Regions from separate parts of the Homo sapiens genome. Here region 2 is linked to region 1. The links come from fine-mapping of genetic effects on gene expression. A gene starts in region 1. The other region holds a variant in brackets. All regions are shown on one strand. Distances are between the middles of the regions.

Region 1 (8,000 bases):
GCAGATCATGAGGTCAGGAGTTCGAGACCAGCCTGGCCAACATGGTGAAACCCCGTCTCTACTAAAAATACAAAAATTAGCCGGGCATGGTGGCACGCGCCTGTAATTCCAGCTACTTGGGAGGCTGAGGCAGGAGAATCGCTTAAACCTGGGAGGCAGAGGTTGCAGTGAGCCAAGATCATGCCATTGCACTACAGCCTGGGCAACAAGAGCAAAACTCTGTCTAAAATATATATATATATATGTATGTATGTATAATTTTCTAAACTTTTCATGTTCTGGCACAAGTTATTTGACTAGCTTCACTTCCCTTGGCTCCACCTTTGCAACTTTATATCCCAACCATACCGAACTACTGAATGCTAGTTCCCTGAATGTTCTTTGGAGTTCTCATATAATATACTCTTGCCTGTGCCTGAAAATCCTTACTCTCTTTGCTTGGGTCACTCCATTTGTACTTAAAGACTCAGTCACACTTGTCTTGCCCTAGCGCCTTATACTTTTCTCAGTCATAACATGTATTACACTGTACTGTTATTGATAGTTTATCTCTCTGATTGTCTCACTAGACCATGAGCTCATTGAAGGCAAGGGCTGTTTCTTTTGTCTCTCTACACCCCTGTCTCTCCCATGCTTTGCACTTAGTAGGTGTTCAGTGATCGGAAACTCAACTGCCTATCACACAGTTCTACCTGGTTACATCATAGGCACCTCAAAATCGACATATCTAAAGTGAACTCATCTCTCCTTCTACCCATTCTATACATTTAAAACCCTCCTCCTGTATTCCCTGATTGAATGTCATCTAGTCTTCCAAGTCAAAAACCTCAGAGTAATTTCTAACTCCTCCTTCTCTTTCATCCCCCAAACCAAGTCCTGTTGATTCTACCACCAAAGAACATTCCCATTCTGCCCACTTCTCTTCATGTCCACTACCTGTCTATCCAAGCCATCTTCATCTCTCACCTGTAGCACTGCCAACCATCTTCTGTATGGGCTCCCTGCTGCTATTCTCATTCCCTCCAATCTATTATCCACAGAGAAGGATCTCTAAACTTCAGATCTGATTCTATTACTCCCTGATTAAACCCTGATTATATTACTCCTCGTTTTTGGATAAAGTCTAAACTCCCTAGCTTTACCCAAAGGACTCTCAAGAACTGGCCCCCATGTACCTCTCCAACATGATCTGTTACCACCCTCCCTCTGTTACTTTAGGTTCCAACCATTTTGCATTTACTGGGCCTGTAGTAATTGTAGCTTCCTAACATTTCTTTTTCATATTTCAATGCCTTTCCTTGTGTTGTTTTCTGCCTAGAAAAGTTTACTGTCTCAAACTCAGCCCAGGTCTAACCTCCTCTGGGAAGCTTTTCCTTACTTCTCAGTCTGGGTTAGGTGCTTCTCTGTTATCCACTACTACCCTGTCATATCTCCATCATAGTGCTTACACTATATACATATATCACTCTATACTGCACTTTCCATTTTACTTGTCCTTCTCATCAAAACTAATTTATGAGCTTCTTGATAGGAGAGTTGATGTCTTATTTGATTTTGCACCACAATGCTCAGCCCATGGCTTATGGCAGATGTACAACAAATATTTAAGAAAATAATGAATGGAAAAACATTAATAAATGTCTCTCTGAACTTCATTTTTGTAGCTATAAAATACCTTCTTTCTTCTGAACACATTGTTTCTTCAAAGTACAATATAGTTGGCTGTCATTCAGGTAATATCAATTGAATTTTGAATGCTCTTCACCAGCAAAATCAGACAATTTCTGGAATTGTACCATTTCTCAGAGGTGGTTGGTCCTACCCATTTTTCCCCTAGGTAATTTTTATCTCAGAGATTACCATCAGTATTTGGGGGTACCATGCTATTGGTCTCATATACCCACTTTGACCTCTAAAGTCCTTTTCAATACCTAAGAGTATATGTTTCACAAAATTGCACATTTATTTATGTTCTAGGTGTTGTTTGGTATATGATGTTAATTTTCCTCTAGGTTTCTCTCAAGCCATAAGAGTATCAAGTACAGAATTGGTCCATGCTTAATCTTTGTAAATAACATTGATTAAGTAAATGCTGGGCCAGGGATTGAGGGGAGTAATTGATCAGAAATTTAACAAATGTTGAGCTGCATAAAGTAGACTGTATTTATTTGAACTGAAAAAGTGGCTAAGACTGAACATCTTGAACATCATTTTCTCTGATATTACCTCAAATTAAAACTTTAATATTATTTTAGAATTGTGTCTCTGAACCTGTTTAATAATTTTAACATGTTTTTTATATTGCTAAGCATTGTTCTAAGTGCTTTATTACATGTATTAACTCATTTAATCATCTGAAAACTCTGTGAGGTAGGTGCAATTATTATCCCCCTTTTACAGATGATGAGGAAACTGAGCCACAGGGAAGTTCCCCAAGGTCAAAAGTTATTCATAACTATCAGACAGCAGGTATATTAATTCAGCTTAATTCAAGGCTCATTTGTTAACCATCTAGTAAATATAATAGTTGACAGGGTAGACAAAAATTGAATACTTAAGCAAGGATAAATCGTAATGTAATAATGCCATGAGTGAATCGCCTAGGCGAGTCAGGCTCCTTTCAGTTAGTGGGAAATGGAGAAAGATTATGTAGTTAAGGTCATGAATAGCGCAGGAACATCCGCTAGGGTAAGTCAGGTTTGTGAAAAATGCAGAAGAAAGGCTTGGTTCTGAGGTGTGTGAAAACAGTCATTCTTTTGTGAGGACTAAAATTAGTTTTAGAAGAGGCATCTGATGCGGTACATGAAACCTAGGGTAACGGTGAGGAAATACACATGTATGAGGCTTCTTAGGAGCAGGGAAAGAGAAAGGTGCCATTTGAAGTCAGTAAGAAAGGGTAACAGCGCGCTTTTCCTGCCCTTCCCCCCTCTAGAGAATCAGTAAATAGCCTGATTCTACTCAAATTCCTTCCCTACCCAAATTCCCTTGACTACAACTCAGACCCTTTGGATCTGCGCTTTTTAGAAGTACTGTACTTCACATTCTGGCACCGTAAGCCCGAAATGTCCTTTAGGCAAATGTTAGGAGGGAAAAATGTATTCTTGCAATTCAAAACCGACTCGAATCCTGCCAGAAAGCTTTATGTTTGCGGACTTTATCGTTCCTCGCCTGTCCGTTTTTTATAAAACGACGCGACACACCTAGCCACACAGCCTCAGATCCTATTCTAACATCGATCCATCCTGTTACCCTTTTAAGAGGCGGATCCCGCAGTGTCCTTTCCTCCCTCCCAGCCACCTCTACCCCCAGTCGGCTGGGCGGAGCTTCACGCTAAAGCCCCAGAGCCCGACGCGGCAGCCGCGGTAGCGGAGAAGACTGGAGCTCCGAGGAGCTGCATCTGCGGCAACCTGTGTGCTGACGCTACGTGCCTCCTGGCTCCGACGTAGCTCGCAGCTCCCCAGTCTCACTCCATTCCTTCCCCACCTGGCGCGCACCTGCTCAAGACCAGGGTCCTGCCAAGCGCTAGGAGGGCGCGTGCCAGGGGCGCTAGGGAACTGCGGAGCGCGCGCGCCATGGGGCCGCCGCCTGGGGCCGGGGTCTCCTGCCGCGGTGGCTGCGGCTTTTCCAGATTGCTGGCATGGTGCTTCCTGCTGGCCCTGAGTCCGCAGGCACCCGGTTCCCGGGGGGCTGAAGCAGTGTGGACCGCGTACCTCAACGTGTCCTGGCGGGTTCCGCACACGGGAGTGAACCGTACGGTGTGGGAGCTGAGCGAGGAGGGCGTGTACGGCCAGGACTCGCCGCTGGAGCCTGTGGCTGGGGTCCTGGTACCGCCCGACGGGCCCGGGGCGCTTAACGCCTGTAACCCGCACACGAATTTCACGGTGCCCACGGTTTGGGGAAGCACCGTGCAAGTCTCTTGGTTGGCCCTCATCCAACGCGGCGGGGGCTGCACCTTCGCAGACAAGATCCATCTGGCTTATGAGAGAGGGGCGTCTGGAGCCGTCATCTTTAACTTCCCCGGGACCCGCAATGAGGTCATCCCCATGTCTCACCCGGGTGAGTGCAGCTACTAGATTGCACCCCTCCAGACCTCTGCCATGGCCAGTTTCTCTTATTTTCCTCATTGCCCTCCTCGTCCTATCCCCTTGCTCCGAAGGAAAGTGGGTGCTCTTTCTGTCCCCACGGAGTGGGGCAGGGTCCTCCCCGAGATTCACCAGGCCTGGGTGTTGGGCAAAAAAAAATCCTTCATTTGCCTCTCTGGTGGAAAAGGGTAAAACAAACCGGGTGCAGAGGCTGGCAAATCAAGGACTGTTTGAGCTCTTTGCGTTCCCTTTTCCTGGTTTTTCACAAGGGTGTCTAGCCTTGGATTAAGTGGTGGTGGGCATCGGGTCTTAAATGACCGAGGAGATCACCTGGAAATCTCTTCCTCACTCTGCTTTTTAACAACCTCAGACTGGCAGCAGATTTTCCCCTCCTCTCCCTGTTTTTCTCTCCATGTTTCCTGGGTATCAAATACTAGATTGTGCTACTGTGCCCTGTTAACCTCATTGCAATTTTGGTGGAAACTTTGCTTAGTTCTTGGGTTCTTCTCTGCCCAGTGGTCTCAAGTCCCAAGTGACTTGGTATCAGTGCTTTTGTTTGCTTCTGAAAAATCTGATTTAGGTTATTGAGTTGCAAAACAGGTGACTAACGTTCTTGAAAAAGAAGAGGTTTCTGCATGAGGATAGCAAAGGCCTAGACTTTGGAAAAAAAAATAGTCCAGGTAGTTCTTAAATTCTTGGAGATGGTATGAGGTTACTATTTTTCCCCGTCGGTTATCCTTCCACAAACTTCCCTATTTGTGATTAGGTATCCATACCTTATGTATATAGTTATCCTAGACCCTAAAGGACAAAGGGGAAAAAAATGGAGAAAAAGAAAGAGACACGTGTAATAGCAGTGTATCATAGTTTTTAAGAGCTGGGCCTCAAGTCAGAGCTTGGTTTAAATTCCTACTCTGTTGCTTACTAGTCCTGTGACCTTGGGCAACTTATTTCAAGTCTTAGAGTCTGGGTTCTCTCATCAGTCAAATGAGAATGAATAATAAGAAAACTTATCCACAAGTTTGCCTTCAGGATAAAATGAAATAATGCCTTAAAGAGTTTAGTGCAGTAAAGCACATCATCCACTCTCAGTAAGGGTTAGCTGATAGGATTAGCCTTCTGGGAGTCACTGGAAGGAAGAAGCTGCTTATTTGACTACTGGAGGTTTTCTGTTTTTCTTAAAACCTTATGACTGAACCTGCCTAGAGAGCACTTGTATTGAGTGGCTGGATGGCGTAATGGAAAGAACACTGAATTGGAACTCAGGAGATTTGAGTTCTTTTAGCCCCTTCTTTGCCTCTACCGACTTTGTAACCTTGTACAAGTTACTCACATGTCAAATGATTGTATAGGCAGTGGAGGCCAAGTTAGAAGCGTGTACTGAAACAAAACAAAAGTAGATGAACTCTAAGATCCCTTTCAGATCTAAAATGCTATGATTTTTAGTTTTTATATTGATTAAAGGAGAAACTGTATCTCTCTTGGCCGATAATTCATTGATTAGAATGAATCAGTAGCTTTTAGAAGTTACTGAAAATCAAGAATAAAGACCTAATAAAGTTTATAGTCTTTATATTTCAGTTGACTGTCTAATAGCAAGGGTTTGACTTTGTCTTCTAATGAGATTCATTTGCATGAATGATTTGTAATTGAAGAGTATTTAATTACAGAGTCCTACTTAGACCATTTTCCTTTTACTTCTGTTAAGGGTATTTATCTGATAGTTTTAGGAGACAATAAAATTAACTTTTGCTTGGCTCCCACTATATGCCAGGCACTCTACATACATATTACTTATACTTTATTGAGAGGCAATATGGTGTACTAAGAAAAACACAGGCATTTTAGTCAAGATTGGGAATAAAATTCTGGATTTACCACACAATAGCTTTGTGTCCTTGGTAGGATTATTTAACTTTACTGAGCCTTGGATACCCCATCTGTAAGATGGAGATAATATTTATGTTGCTGTGATTATTAAGGATTATATATATATATACTACCCAGCTGATAATAGTCACTGAATGTTATAATAGGTTAATGCTAACAGGATGCAAAAAAATAATGTACAAATGTATGATTGTGCAACTGTCGATTTGAAGACATGAATACACTGAGAATCTAACTATGGGTGTTGTGTTTCAGGATACCATATAGGAATAAAGCCCTAAATATTGATCACTAAATTACACTACATTCAGAAAAGCATTTTGATACTTTAAAAACAATATTATCTGAGATAAAGGCTATACCAAAGTTTGCCATCAAGCTAACTAGATAAAACCAGCAAATTACTTGAGGTAAGGAATCACATTTCTCCTTGAACTCCTGGAAAAACTATTTTTCAATATAGGGGGAAAATCACTGCATATTATCCACATGTGTTATTGAATATTTGTTTGCAAAGTGTTATATTGTTTGCTTTACTCATTCCTCAGAGTAAGCCTAGGGTTTCCTTTTAACCTCTGGTCAAAAACTTATCTTGGATCATAGTGGCAGAGAGATAGGACTGAGATTTAAGTATGGATTAGTTCATTATATATTGCTGTGAATTACGAAGGGGCCACCAAATGTGGAAAAGCCTTCTGTATCTTCTTTGTTTACAAAATCTCTCTTCACTCACTCTCATAGGGGCCTGCACTTGAATTGTTTGCCCTTGGTTAGAGTTTGTGCTGAGTGTCTATATTCCCACCTAACTAATTTAGAACAGTTGCTTTAAAATTTTTGTTTAGGAGAAAGAAACTCCACTATATAAGAGCAATCAATTAGGAAAATGAGACTTTTATGTATACCAAAATTTTTCAAAAGTTAATTGTAGCCTAACATCAACTCATGCAGTTTATTTCTGTATTTTGTTTGCAGAGTATTCAGAAAATTCTGATTCACACAGATAAATAATTGCAAATGACAGATGCTTATTGGCAGTTTGGCTTGCAATCTCTGGATATATTTCAATCAAATCAGTGCAGAAACCTGAAAGGAAATTAGGAGAAAATTTTTATTCCAAAGTGTAATTACTATTCAAATTTCTTATCTTAAAAATGAAAGTCAGATAAGTGGCCAAATCTTAAAGTAAGCATTAAAACCATCTAAAATGTAAGATTGTCACGAGACACGTTAAGCATGTTCTCACTATTGCACAACAAACTGTTCTGCTTACGCCAGGCAGATGGGCCTGAGCTTTGCCTGGTGTCTAATTGAGCACAACCCACAGGTTGAAGAGATATGTATACTTGCTTGTACAATTTTCCTTGAGTCAACATTGTAGGCATGAATTTATTGAAAGACTGGTGCAGAACTACAACCTTCATAATTCATGAAACATTTACAACGTTATGCATAAAACATATGCAAAGGGATGTCAGGAGAAGCATTATTCCTGAGGGCTGTAAAAAAAAAAAGTGAATGAACCAAGCAGTTTAATTAATGATTTGGGGGTCTCCAATGGGATACAGTTTGATATATAACACAGTTGCTTGTGTACATTGTTGAAAGATAGTGGAACAGATTAGTTAAGAGGTTGTGCTCTGCCAATTAGTATTTTTTAAATCTTAGGCCAGTTATTTTACTTCTCTAAGTCTCAGTTTTCTCCTATGTAAGGTAGGCATAATAATAAACTTGCCTCCTAAGGTTGCTGGGATTCAATGAGATAATGCAGATAAAGCGTTTAGCACAGTGTCTGACATATAGGAAGCTACTATTATGTTTTAATCACAGTTAAATATATTTTAGAAAATGAAAGTTGAATCCTGTGTTTGTAGAACATAATTGGAAATGAACAGTCTAGAGTACTTCAAAGTCCACATTACCTGAAATTCTAATTTGATCCCTTTAGGTACGGAGGGTAGACTGAATTTTAACAGGAAAAAGATCTTTTGGTCCTCCTATGTTTGTTGTACTTTTCTCAAATAACTGCTT
Region 2 (12,816 bases), 37 kb before region 1:
AACAGGGGTACTTGTATCAACCCTCACTCAGCTCTAGGAGGTTCAGCACAGAGAGAGAGATTCTGTTTGTTTGGGAGAAAGTAAGGGAAGACAACAAGAGTCTCTGCCTGGTAATCCAGGGAATTCTTTTAGATCTTACCCAAGACCACCAAGGCGGTAACTCTGTGTGTCTACAAGAGACACAGAATTACTGGGTTTGGAGTGCCCCGTAATGAAGATATGGCTGCAGGGACCAAAGACTTACACCACAATACCTAAGTCCCTTTAAAGACTTGGCAAGCTTCCTTAAGCAGGATGCGTACAAACAAGCCCAGACAGTAAAGACTGCAATAAGTACCTATCCCTTCAATTTCCAAAGTCCACAAGCATCAACGCCATCCAAGCAAACATTACCTCACCAAATGAACTAAACAAGGCACCAGTGACCAATCCTGAAGAGACAGATATATGTGATATTTCAGGCAAAGAAGTCAAATGAGCTGTTTTGAGGAAGCTCAAAGAAATTCAAAGTAACATGGAGAAGGATTTCAGAATCCTATCAGATAAATTTAACAAAGAGATTGAAATAATTTTAAAAGAAGCTGAAATTCTGGAGCTAAGAAATGCAAATGACATACTGAAGGATGCATCAGAGTCTCTCAACAACAACAAAAAGATCAAGCAGAAGAAAGAATTAGTGAGCTTGAAGACAGCCTATATGAAAATACAAAGAGAAGATAAAAGAAAAAAAGAATAAAAAAGAGTGAAACACACCTACAAGATCTAGAAAATAGCATCAGAAGGGCAAATCTAAGAGTTATAGGTCTTAAAAAGGAAGTAGAGAGATCAGGGTGGAAAGTTTATTCAAAGGAATAATAATAGAGAACTTCCCAAACCTAGAGAAAGATAGGAATATTCAAGTACAAGAAAATTATAGAACACCAACCAGATTTAACCCAAAGAAGACTACCTCAACGCATTAAGTAATAAATTTCCAAAGGTCAAGGATAAAGAAAGGATCCTACAAGCAGTAAGAGAAAATAAACAACTAACATACCAAGGAGCTCCAATATGCCTGGCAGCAAACTTTTCAGTGGAAACCTTACAAGCCAGGAGAGAGTAGCATGACATATTTAAAGTACTGAAGGAAAGAAACTTTCATCCTAGAATAGACTATCCAGATAAAATATTCTTAAAACATGAAGGAGAAATAAAGACTTTCCCAAACAAACGGAAGCTGAGGGACTTCATTGACACCAGACCTGTCCTGTGAAAAATGCTACAGGGAGTTCTTCAATCCAAAAGAAAAGGATGTTAATGAGTCATAAGAAATCATCTGAAGAGACAAAACTCACTGGTAATAGTAAGTACACAGAAAAACACAAAATATTATAACACTGTATTTGTGGTATCTAAACTACATATATCTTGAGTAGAAAGACTAAGAGATGAACCTACCAAAAATAAAAACTACAACAACTTTTCAAGAAATAGATAGTATAATAAAATATAAATAGAAAAAACAAAAAGTTAAAACATGGGAGGATGAAGTTAAAGTATAGAGTTTTATCAGTTTTCTCTTTGCTTGTTTGTTTGTTTATTTATGCAATCAGTGTTAAGTAGTTATCAGTTTAAAATAATTAGTTATAAAATATCATTTGCAAGCCTCGTGGCAACCTCAAATTAAAAAACCTACAACAAGTACACAAAAAATAAAAATCAAGAAGTCATAACACCAGAGAAAATCACCTTTACTAAAGGGAACACAGCAATGAAGGAAAGAAGGAAGAGAAGACCACAAAACAACCAGAAAACAAATAACTAAGTGTCAAGAGTAAGCCCTTAATTATCAATAATAAGATTGAATATAAATGAACTGAACTTTCCAATCAAGAGATAGACAATGGCTGAATGGATGAAACAAAAAACAAGACCCGATTATCTGCTATCTATGAAAAACACACTTTACCTCTAAAGACACATGTAGACTGAAAATAAAGGGATAGAAAAATATATTCCCTGCCAAAGGAAACCCAAAAAAGAGCAGGAGTAGCTATCCTTACATTAGACAAAATATATTTCAAGACAAAAATTGTAAGAAGAGACAGAGATCATTACATAATGATAAAGGGGTCAATTCAGAAAGAGGATATAACAATTGTAAATGTATATGCACCCAACACTAGAGTATCTAGATATATAAAATAAATATTATTAGAGCTAAAGACAGAAAGACCTCAAAAAATAATAGCTAGAGGCTTCAACACCCTACATTCAGCATTAGACAGATCTTCCAGGCAGAAAATCAACAAAGAAACATTGAACTTAATCTGCACTATAGACCAAATGGACCTAATAGATACTTACAGGACATTTCATCCAATGGCTGCAGAATACACATTCTTCTCCTCACCACGTGGATCGTTCTCAATGATAGACCATATATTAGTCCACAAAACAAGTTTTTAAAATTCAAAAAATAATGAAATTATATCAAATATATTTTCTGCCCACAATAGAATAAAACTAGATATCAGTAACAAGAGGAATTTTTGAAACTATACAATCATATAGAAATTAAATAATATGCTCCTGAATGACCCATGGGTCAATGAAGAAACTGAGAACAAAACGAAAAATGTATTGAAACAAATGATAATAGAAATACAACATATCAAAATGTATCATATACAGCAAAAGCAGTGCTAAGAGGAAAGTTTATAGCAGTAAGCACCTACATTTTAAAAGTAGGAAAACTTCAAATAAACAACCTAACAATACATCTTAAAGAACTAGAAAAGCAAGAGCAAACAAAATCTGAAATTGGTACAGAAAAGTAATAAAGATCAGAGCAGAAATAAATGAAAATGAAATTTACAGAAATACGAAACATCAATGAAACAAAAACTCGTTTTTTTCAAAAGATAAATAAAATTGACAAATCTTTAGCTAAACTAGCTAAGAAAAAAAGAGGGAAGATACAAATAAATAAAATCAGAGGTGAAAATAGGAAACATTTCAACTGATACTACAGAAATTTGAAGGATCATTTAAGGCTGCTATGAGCAATTATATGCCAATAAATTGGAAAACTTAGAAGAAATGGCTAAATTCCTAGACTTATACGACCTTCCAACATTGAACAATGAAGAAATCCAAAACCTTAACAGGCCAATAACAAGTAACGAGACCTAAGCCATAATAAAAATTTTCCCAGTAAAGGAAAACAGGAGACCAAATGGTTTCACTGCTGAGTTCTACCAAATATTTAAGAAGAACTAATACCAATTCTACTCAAACTATTCCATAAAACAGAGAAAGAGGGAATACTTCCAAACTCCTATGAGGTCAGTATTAACTTGATACCAAAACCAGGGAAAGATAAATCAACAAAAAGAAAACTACAGGTCAATATCCCTGATATATATTGATGCAAAAATCCTCAACAAAATACTAGCAAACCAAATTTAACAACACATTAAAAAGTTCACTCATCATGACTAAGAGGGATTTATCCCAAGGATGCAAGGATGGCTCAACACACAAAAGTCAATCAATGTGATACATCATATCAACAGAATAAAGGACAAAAACCACATGATCATTTCAATTGATGCTGAAAAACATTATGATAAAGTTCACATCGCTTCATGATAAAAACCCTCAGAGAACTGCATATAGAAAGAACATACCTCAACACAATAAAAGCTATATATAACAGACCCATTGCAAGTATCATGTTGAATGGGGAAAAACTGAAAGTATTTCCTCTAAGATCTGGAACATGACAAGGATGCCCACTTTCACCATTATTCAACATTGTACTGAGAATCCTACCTAAAACAATCAGACAAGAGAAAGAAATAAAGGGCATTTAAATTGGCAAGGAAAAAGTCAAATTATCCTTCTTTGCTGATGATATGATCTTGTAGTAGGAAAATCTAAAGATTCCACCGAAAACTACTAGAACAGATAAATAAATTCAGTAACGTTGCAGGATACAAAATCAACATAAAAAAGTTAGTAGCATTTCTATATGCTGATAGCAAACAATCTGAAAAGGAGACCAAAAAATTTATTCCACTTAGCAAAGCTAAAAACAAAATAAAATACAGAGGAGTAAACTTAATCAAAGAAATAAAATACCTCTAAAATGAAAACTATAAAACATTGACTCAAGAAATTGAAGAGGCCAAAAAAAAAGAAAAGATAGTCCATGTTTATGGATTGGAAGAACCAATATTGTTAAAATGTCCACAATACCCAAAGCGATCTATGGGATTCAACACAATCCCTACTAAAATACCAATGACATTCTTCACAAAGAGAAAATGAAAATTCCTAATATTTATATAAAACCCCACAAGATTCAGAATAGCCAAAGTGATCATGAACAAAAAGAACAAAACTGGCGGAATCACATTACCTGACTTCAAATTGTACTACACAGCTATAGTATCCAGAACAGCATGGCACTGGTATGAAAACAGACACAGAGACCAAAGGAACAGAATAGACAAACCAGAAATAAATCCATACATCTAAAGTGAACTCATTTTCAACAAATATGCCAAGAACCTACATTGGGGAATGGACAGTCTCTTCAATAAATGGTGATGGGAAAACTGGATATCCATACGCAGAGGAATAAAACTAGACCCTATCTCTCACCATATACAAAAATCAAATCAAAATCAATTAAAGACTTAAATCTAAGACTTCAAACTCTGAAACTACTGCAAGAAAACATTGGGGAAACTCTCCAGGTCATTGGACAGGGCAAAGATTTCTTCAGTAATACTCTACAAGCACAGGCAATCAAATAAAAAATGGACAAATGAGTTCACATCAAGTTAAAAAGCTTCTGCACAGCAAAGGAAGCAATCAACAAAGTGAAGAGACAATTCACAAAATGGGAGAAAATATTTGCAAACTATTCATCTATAAACTAGGGATTAATAACCAAAATATATAAGGAACACAAGCAACTTACAGGACAAAATCTAATAATCCAATCAAAATGGGCAAAAGATCTGATAAAAGATTTCTCAAAAGAAGACATACAAATGGCAAGCAGATTCACGAAAATGTGCTCAACATCACTGATCATCAGAGAAATACAAAACAAAGCTACAATGAGATATCATCTTACCCCAGTTAAAATGGCTTTTATCCAAAAGACAGGCAATAATTAATACTGATGAGGATGTGGAGAAAAGAGAACTTTCATATAATGTTGGTAGAAATGTAAACTGATACAACTACTATAGAGAACAGTTTGGAGGTTACTCAAAAAACTAAACTAGAACTGCCATAAGATCCAGCAATCCCACTGTTAGGTCTACATACAAAAGAAAGGAACTCAACATATCGAAGATATATCTATACCCCTATGTTTATTGCAGCACTATTCACAATAACCATGATTTGGAATCAACTTAAGCGTCCATCAACAGACGAATGAATAAAGAAAATGTGGTATATGTACATAATAGAGCACTATTTGGCCATAAAAAAGAATAAGATTCTGTCATTTGCAACAACATAGGTAGAACTGGAGATCATCATGTTAAGTGAAATAAGCCAGGCACAGAAAGACAAACTTTGCATGTTCTCACTTATTTGTGGAAGATAAAAATTAAAACAATTGAATTCATGGATATAGAAAGATAAAGGTTGGTTACAAGGCCTGCAAGAGTAGTGCAGAGGGAAGAAGCAGGGATGGTTGTTGGGTACAAAAATATAGTTAGATAGAATGAATAAGATCTAGTATTTGATAGCACAACAGAGGAACAATTTGTTGTACATTTACAAATAACCAGAAGAGTATAATTGGATTGTTTATAACACAAAGTGAAGATAAATGCTTGAGGTGATGGATATCCCATTTGCCCTGATGTGATTTTTACACATTGCATGCCTGTATTCAAATATCTCATGTTCCCCATGAATACACCTACCCACACACAAAAATTTTATTTTCAAGTTTAAGTTATGTACTTCAACCTCCAGTGCAATGTAACATAATAGCTTAGGAATGTTCTCTTATTACACCAACACTGGCACAAGATGTTATGGGAAAGTTGTCATTGTTTAAAATTTATTTTATTTGTATTTTTTTAAAATATATATATAGAGAGACGGGGTTTTGTCTTGTTGCCCAGGCTGGTCTCGAACTCCTGAGCTCAAGCAATCCGCCAGCCTCAGCCTCCCAAAGTGCTGGGATTACAGGCATGAGCCACTGCACCCATCCAAGTTGTCCTTTTTTCAGAACTTAATGATTTAACTTGTGCAAAAATATGTCAAGATTTGAAACTAGTATGTTCAGATTATTTAACAGGGAGCCAGTGGTAAAGGCCTGGGTGTGTCTTCCTACCTTTCTCCTTGTTTGTGCATACAATTACACTTCTTTGTAAAGATGCAAAGAAGGCTTGGTTTTATTACCAAAAGAAAGTCATAGTATGCATATTATTCTTTAATTTGCTTTGCTTTCCATGGGTATAAGATCTTTAATAACATGTAATAAAATACCTTTGGGGCATTTGCTACAAATATTTCCCCAATGTATCACTGCCTATTTAAAATAGTTCAATATTGTTGAGTGAGCAAATGTTCCACTTTAATTTTTTCCACTGATATGACAGTCTTTTCCCTTTCACAAGGTTTAATAAATACCCAGGTCTGTGTCTGCTGGTTTTAAAAAATTCTTAATTTTTCAAAAAACATTATTACTTAATCCAACTGTAATTTATTTGGGTGTTTTGTGAGGAGGAAATGAGGAGCAAACTGATTATTTTCCTTCTTTAACTGACTAGCCAATTGTCCCATCACCATTTATTGAATGGTGCCTTCTTGGGTTGTTTTGTTTTGTCTTGTTTTGTTTTTTGAGACAGAGTCACTCTGTCACCCAGGCTGAAGTGCAGTGGTGCAATCTCAGCTCACTGCATCCTCGACCTCCCAGGCTCAAGCAATCCTCCTGCCTCAGCCTCCCGAGTAGCTGGGACCACAGATGCACACCGCCACACCAGCTATTTTTTTTTTGATAGAGATGGGGTTTCATCATGTTGCCCAGTGTGGTCTCAAACTCTAGGGCTCAAGCAATCTGCACGCCTCTACCTCCCAAAATGCTGAGATTACAGGCATGAGCCACTGTGCCTGGCCTTTTTGTATTTTTTATTGATAGATTATAGTTGTGCATATTTATGGGGTACATGTGACATTTTGACACATGCAATGTATATCGATAAAATCAGGGTAATTGGGATATCCATCACCTCAAACATTTATCTTTTCTTTGTGTTGGGATCATTACAATTCTTCTCTTCTAACTGTTTTTGAAATATACCATACACTGTTGCTAACTATATTCACCCTTCTGTACTATCGAATACTAGAACTTCTTCCTTCTAGCTAACTGTATTCTTGTACCCATTAACCAACTTCTCTTCATCCCTCCCTCCTCCTTCCCTTCCCAGCCTCTGGTAACTACCCTGGAGACATGGGAGGAGAAATGAGGCAGGAGAGCTTTTCCTTAGTGTATTTTTATCCTGAATTGTTTCCTGAATACGTAAAATGTGTTAAGATTTTTTAAATGTTCAAAACTTCAACCTATTAAATCCACTGAAAAAAACTGTTAGGATATAATCTTAAACACAGAAAAAGTTATTATAACAAAATGATAATAGCAAAAATATTATTTAAAATTTTGACCAAACAAAAATGGAATGACTAAGTAAACCGAGGTATTTCCATTAATGGAATATCATTTATCCAACAAAGCATTGTCTACAAAGATTATAAGATAAAATATATAATGACTGAGATATTAAATGAAAAACTAATTTAAAAATATATAAATATGATCATGTAACTAAGAAAAAATCCCTACACAAAATAATGAAAAGAAATCTTAAGATAAACAAAGAAATATTATTTTTTAAAATTTGACTTCTAATGGATTTAGGTAACTTCTCATTAATCTGCTTTTAAAGTTTTTCATGAGAAGATTTTTTAAGGAGTAATTTAATTGGCAGAAAAGGATAGATCAAATTTCTGGGATTTTACTAATTATTTAAATGTTGAATGTTGATGTTGAATTTATCACAAAAGACTGTCCATCAGCAATCTCTAAGCTAATGGTTTTGACAACATTTATAATAACAATAATAACATTTCTGTTTTTAGTCTGATAATTTTCTCTGGTGAATACAGGCTTTATTGTGATCCTAAAAACACATCAAAATGATAGGGCTAGTAGCAAAATAATGAACTATTTGTGTTTACTCTTAAATTGACCATAAGCTAATACACAAGACCTTTAATCTTTTCAGTTCAATTATATGAATTATTAGGCTGTTACTAGGTGTATGATGCTAGTAGTACCAGGTACTATGGGAGGGTACGCTAATGAGTAATTGGCAGCTATGATATGATAGCAAGGTTCATATTTGTATTATACATCTGCTGGGATTTATTCAGCAGGTTCTGCTGCTGATTCCCTGAACTCCTTCCCTCTGCTGAGTGGTGTGAACTGTTAATTCTCACCTGCAGGGTCCACTCCAACACTGATATTTCAGATGTTTAAAAGCGGACAAGAAGTAGGGAGAAGAAACAGCTTCATTGACCACCTCCATCAACAACGTCTCCTATTTTTTTATTTTCGGTTGTCCTGTCCCCTTGACTCTAGTAAACCTTCCTGATTCCAGATTACCTGACTTGGACCTTGGACTACCATTGTCCCTACCTTCCTTTTGACCTGGTAGCTTTTTGCTTCCCTGGAAGCCTGATGCCTGTTTGTCTAGTTTGCTGACTCTTGGCCCAGTCAGACTCCTGATATCTCTGTTTGTCTTGTTCGTTCATCTATTCCTTCATCAGCCCTTGGCACACATTGCAATCTCCCCATCCCAGCAATTTTCACAGACCAGTTGACCCCGTAGCGTATGTGTCCTAATGCTCTTAGTGTCCAGTGTGCTCCTGAATAAAAACAGAGCTTGAACTAAAGGAAGCAATGAAACAAATAAAGTTGTCTATACATCTGGGAGAACTAAAAATTTAAAAATGTAAATGTTAAAAATTAAACCTTCAACAACCTTTTTTAGAGTATAACAC[A/G]TGGGGCACAAAAATTAATGGAATGCAGCAACTTGCAGGTATCAATCAATCAACAAATATTTGAGTGCCTGCCATGGGCAAGGCACTATACTTGAAAGGAAAGGAATTCTAGCTACTGAAATATGTTTGTTTTCCAACGAATAAACAAGGTAACAGAGGATATCCCTTGGGGAGCCTGCTAAGAAAACACACACACACACACACACACACACACACACACACACAGAGAGAGAGAGAGAGAGAGAGAGAGAAATTAGAAGAGAAAAAAGCAATAAAATTCATTCTACTAATGCCATAGCAATTAAACTCATGGATCTTAACTTACTCCAGGCTGAACTGGTTGATAGCATATTTCAGCAGGGCTTGGCAAACCAGTTTAGTGTTTTAGATATTCTGAGAGAGGTAACTTTCAGCCTTGTCACGTGGGATTCCCCAGAGTCCAGTTCCTCTTTCCAATCCACTCCATGTTTATGAAAGTGCATTAGTTGGAACAGTAAGAAGAAAAAAAAATGTACTGCAGGAAGTCATCCAATCCTAATAAGTTGACATGTAGAATAAAGTTGATGGTGTTATTTATTACTAAGGTAGTCCTGGTTAAGGGTTACCTGTGTGTACAGCTGGAGGAGGGGCAAGCAAAGGGGAATGTAGATAACTAAAGTGAAATAGAGCTGATGTATCCAGAGGTTATGTTGCTAGAGGTGAGATCAGTTACCTACGTGCAACTGAAATTTCAAACTTCTGTTCAGCAGGGACGTGAGTGGACAATGGTGACTGATAGTTGGAAATATCAGCAAACATCTTAAATTTTATACTCAAATGAATGAGCAATGAACCAGGAGAATAGGTCCAGTTTTTTTTGGCTCCTTGTAATTTTTACCTTTTTACTTAAAATTACAGCATCTTTTTCAATGAGTGCCTATGTGACTGTGACTTATTACAATGAAACCAGCAACTACACTGCAATAGAGACATGTGAATGTGGCGTTTATGGATTAGCTTCACCAGTGGCTAATGCTATGGGAGTGGTAGGCATCCCTAAGAACAATAACTACCAAGCTTGTGACCACAACACTGAGTTTAGTAATACTAAGAAGCCCTGGATTGCGCTGATAGAAAGAGGTAATTGTACATTTTCAGAAAAAATTCAAACAGCGGGCAGAAGAAATGCTGATGCTGTTGTGATTTACAATGCTCCAGAGACTGGCAATCAGACGATACAGATGGCAAATTTTGGTAAGTAATAATTGATTCACAAAGAGAGTTAATGTCCGTTTATCTTAGAATGGTATTTCCATCTAGAACTGGTCTAGGATCTGGCAACAAGGTTGTAAAATAATTTTACTTTAAATTTTCTTGCCTGGCACAACTTGTAATTACTTTATTATTATTTAATATTTTTAATTAATTTGTTCCAAAGACAGTAGCAATTCATGAAGTGATTCCTATTTTCTTTCATGTTTTCTTAGCAATATAAGTTTCCTCAGTGGGCATTATATCGTGAGTTGCTTTTTAATAAACTGTGCCTTTACCTCTAAACATTAAAAAATTTAATTTCATTATTAATTTGCACTTCTCAGTTTGATTTATTTTCTCCTGCAAAAGGGATTGTATGTTTTCAAGTTTGTGAAACTGCAAAACAGTTTCATTATGCTTAAATAATAGCATATTATAAGTGTGTAAAATGTTATAGAAATGAGAACTTGACTCTACTGTATGCTTGTAAGATTTGAATCTTTTTGCGGGACTGATACAAACGAATCTGCAAAAACGTGATATTACCCATTGAAAAGTGTATGGCAGAAATAGGATAACACTGTAATTAACAAAGAAAATAAAGATTTCCCTTAGAAATATTTACTAATGGCTTCTTAAGTAAATAGAAACTTCTAATTTATTAACTTTTTAAAGGAGTTACTTCTGAAAATCACTGGTTTTTATTTATTTAAAAAAACAGTTTCCAAGTAAATAGATTTTTAAACCAATGAAGAAGTAAACTTCTGAACCCCATTTTGTTCACTGTGGATAGGTATGTGTGTTTTTATCAGACTTGGTCTAAAAAAAAAAAGGAATAATTTCAATCAAGGCAAGCGCTGACAGTAAATGAATACAAAATTTTGATAATTGGTGTTATTGCCAAATTTGGCCTCTAAGAAAATTAATGCAAATTAAATTAAACAGATTTTAGAATTATGAAAAGGAGAAAATCAAACTTATGTTAAGAATAGTATGGTGCTTGGAATGTTCCAAGTTGTACACATACAATATCACTGTTTGGTACTAATATTTGAAAACCAAACTGCTTATTTCGCTAAGCATCAAAAAAACAAGTAAGATGAACTTCAGCAGTACAAAATTATTGTAGATGTAACAAAACTCCATGTGCTACCTTTTGTGACACATCCTGGACACTGCAAGAGCTCAGACATTCACATTTTATATTATTTTCTAGCTAAGAGCATTTCATAAGCATTCCCTGCCTGTTCCTGTGTTTTTACGAGTGACTTTCATTTTTGTAGAAAGAAACTAATGCCATTTTCTGATAAAACTTAGGAATTAAATCTGTTCTAAGGAACCAACTTGCTATACATTTAAACTTAGAGATCCTGAATACTCTGGGTTTCCTTTTGCATGAACACATTCTACTTATTCACTCTCCTGCTATTTTTGAAATACAAACAGTATCAAACTAAATAGTAGTCCTGTTTTCAAAACTTTCTTTGCAACCTGTATTAGGGACCAATATCTAGTAGAATGTAGGTACCCTGCCAGTAAATTTGAAATATTTACCAAAGATCACTCACAGTAAATCTCTCCAAAAGAAACATGTGCATAATCATTTGAATATGTGACTCTGAACAGAGTTTTAAAAAGGAGGCAGTTAGACTTATCATTCAATATATACCTCCAATATAACCAAAGACACATGATCAAAAATATTTTAAAGCTACAGTATTGCACCTATTTTAAAATAAACACATTGAAAAAGATAGCATAATGATCATAACTGTGATAGTTAACATTTACTGGCATTTACTATATTTCAGGCACTGTTATAGTGTGTTTATTTAATGAACATTGTTTTTTAACATATGATGATATCAACCCCAAAGAATTAAAACTAAATTTGGAATTTTGCCCTTTTAAGACCTGCCAAATAGTGTGCCATTGGATTTTTTCCTTCCTAGAAATTTCCTTTATATAAAAACTATTCAGTGATGCAGCTGACAAACATAAGGAATCAAGTGTGGATATGAAAACTAGATGACCAGACACTAGATCATTAAAGACTGTCATTATTTTATGCCAACATTTTGTTTGTTGTTGCTGTCTTTTCACTCGTGTTTTGTTTTGTTTTGACACAGAGGATGGGGGAAATCCTCCTACAATAAAGCTCACGATTTCACCTTCTGTCATCTCATCTTGTATTACCCCCTAAAAACCACCTTTTCAGAAAATCACACTGTAGCCCCCTCAGGCCCTTGTACTCTTCTACTCTTCTCTGGCTCCCCCTACCTCTTCATTCCTTCAGTCCCATTATCCTGTACTAGGTCTTACTAAGCACTTCCACAATGTTGTGTCTCTCTGCTTCTTTCTAATGTCAGTGCTCTCCAGCCAAAGACCGCTAGCAACAGACCTGTAGTTTAAAAAGGTAGATTTATTACTTGTTGCAGCAATTGGAAGAGCACACACCATGGAAAACCACAGGGCATCCTACTAAGAGGGTGTTAA

Evidence for each region. PIP is the estimated chance that this variant, and not a neighbour inherited with it, causes the effect.
Region 2: its variant is fine-mapped to the expression of RNF128 in lung (TOPMed, PIP 0.94).

The regions. Positions count from the first base shown.
Region 1 is chrX:106,723,342-106,731,341 of GRCh38, forward strand. It overlaps RNF128 (ring finger protein 128), which reads left to right and starts at 3,360. Exons shown (of 7, transcript NM_194463.2): 1 at 3,360-4,056. The coding sequence starts at 3,573. RefSeq lists an enhancer at 3,207-3,795.
Region 2 is chrX:106,684,089-106,696,904 of GRCh38, forward strand. It overlaps a transcript of RNF128 not described here. Among named protein-coding and RNA genes, the nearest start is that of RNF128, 36 kb to the right of the region's middle. The variant A/G (reference allele first, on the strand shown) is at 9,088.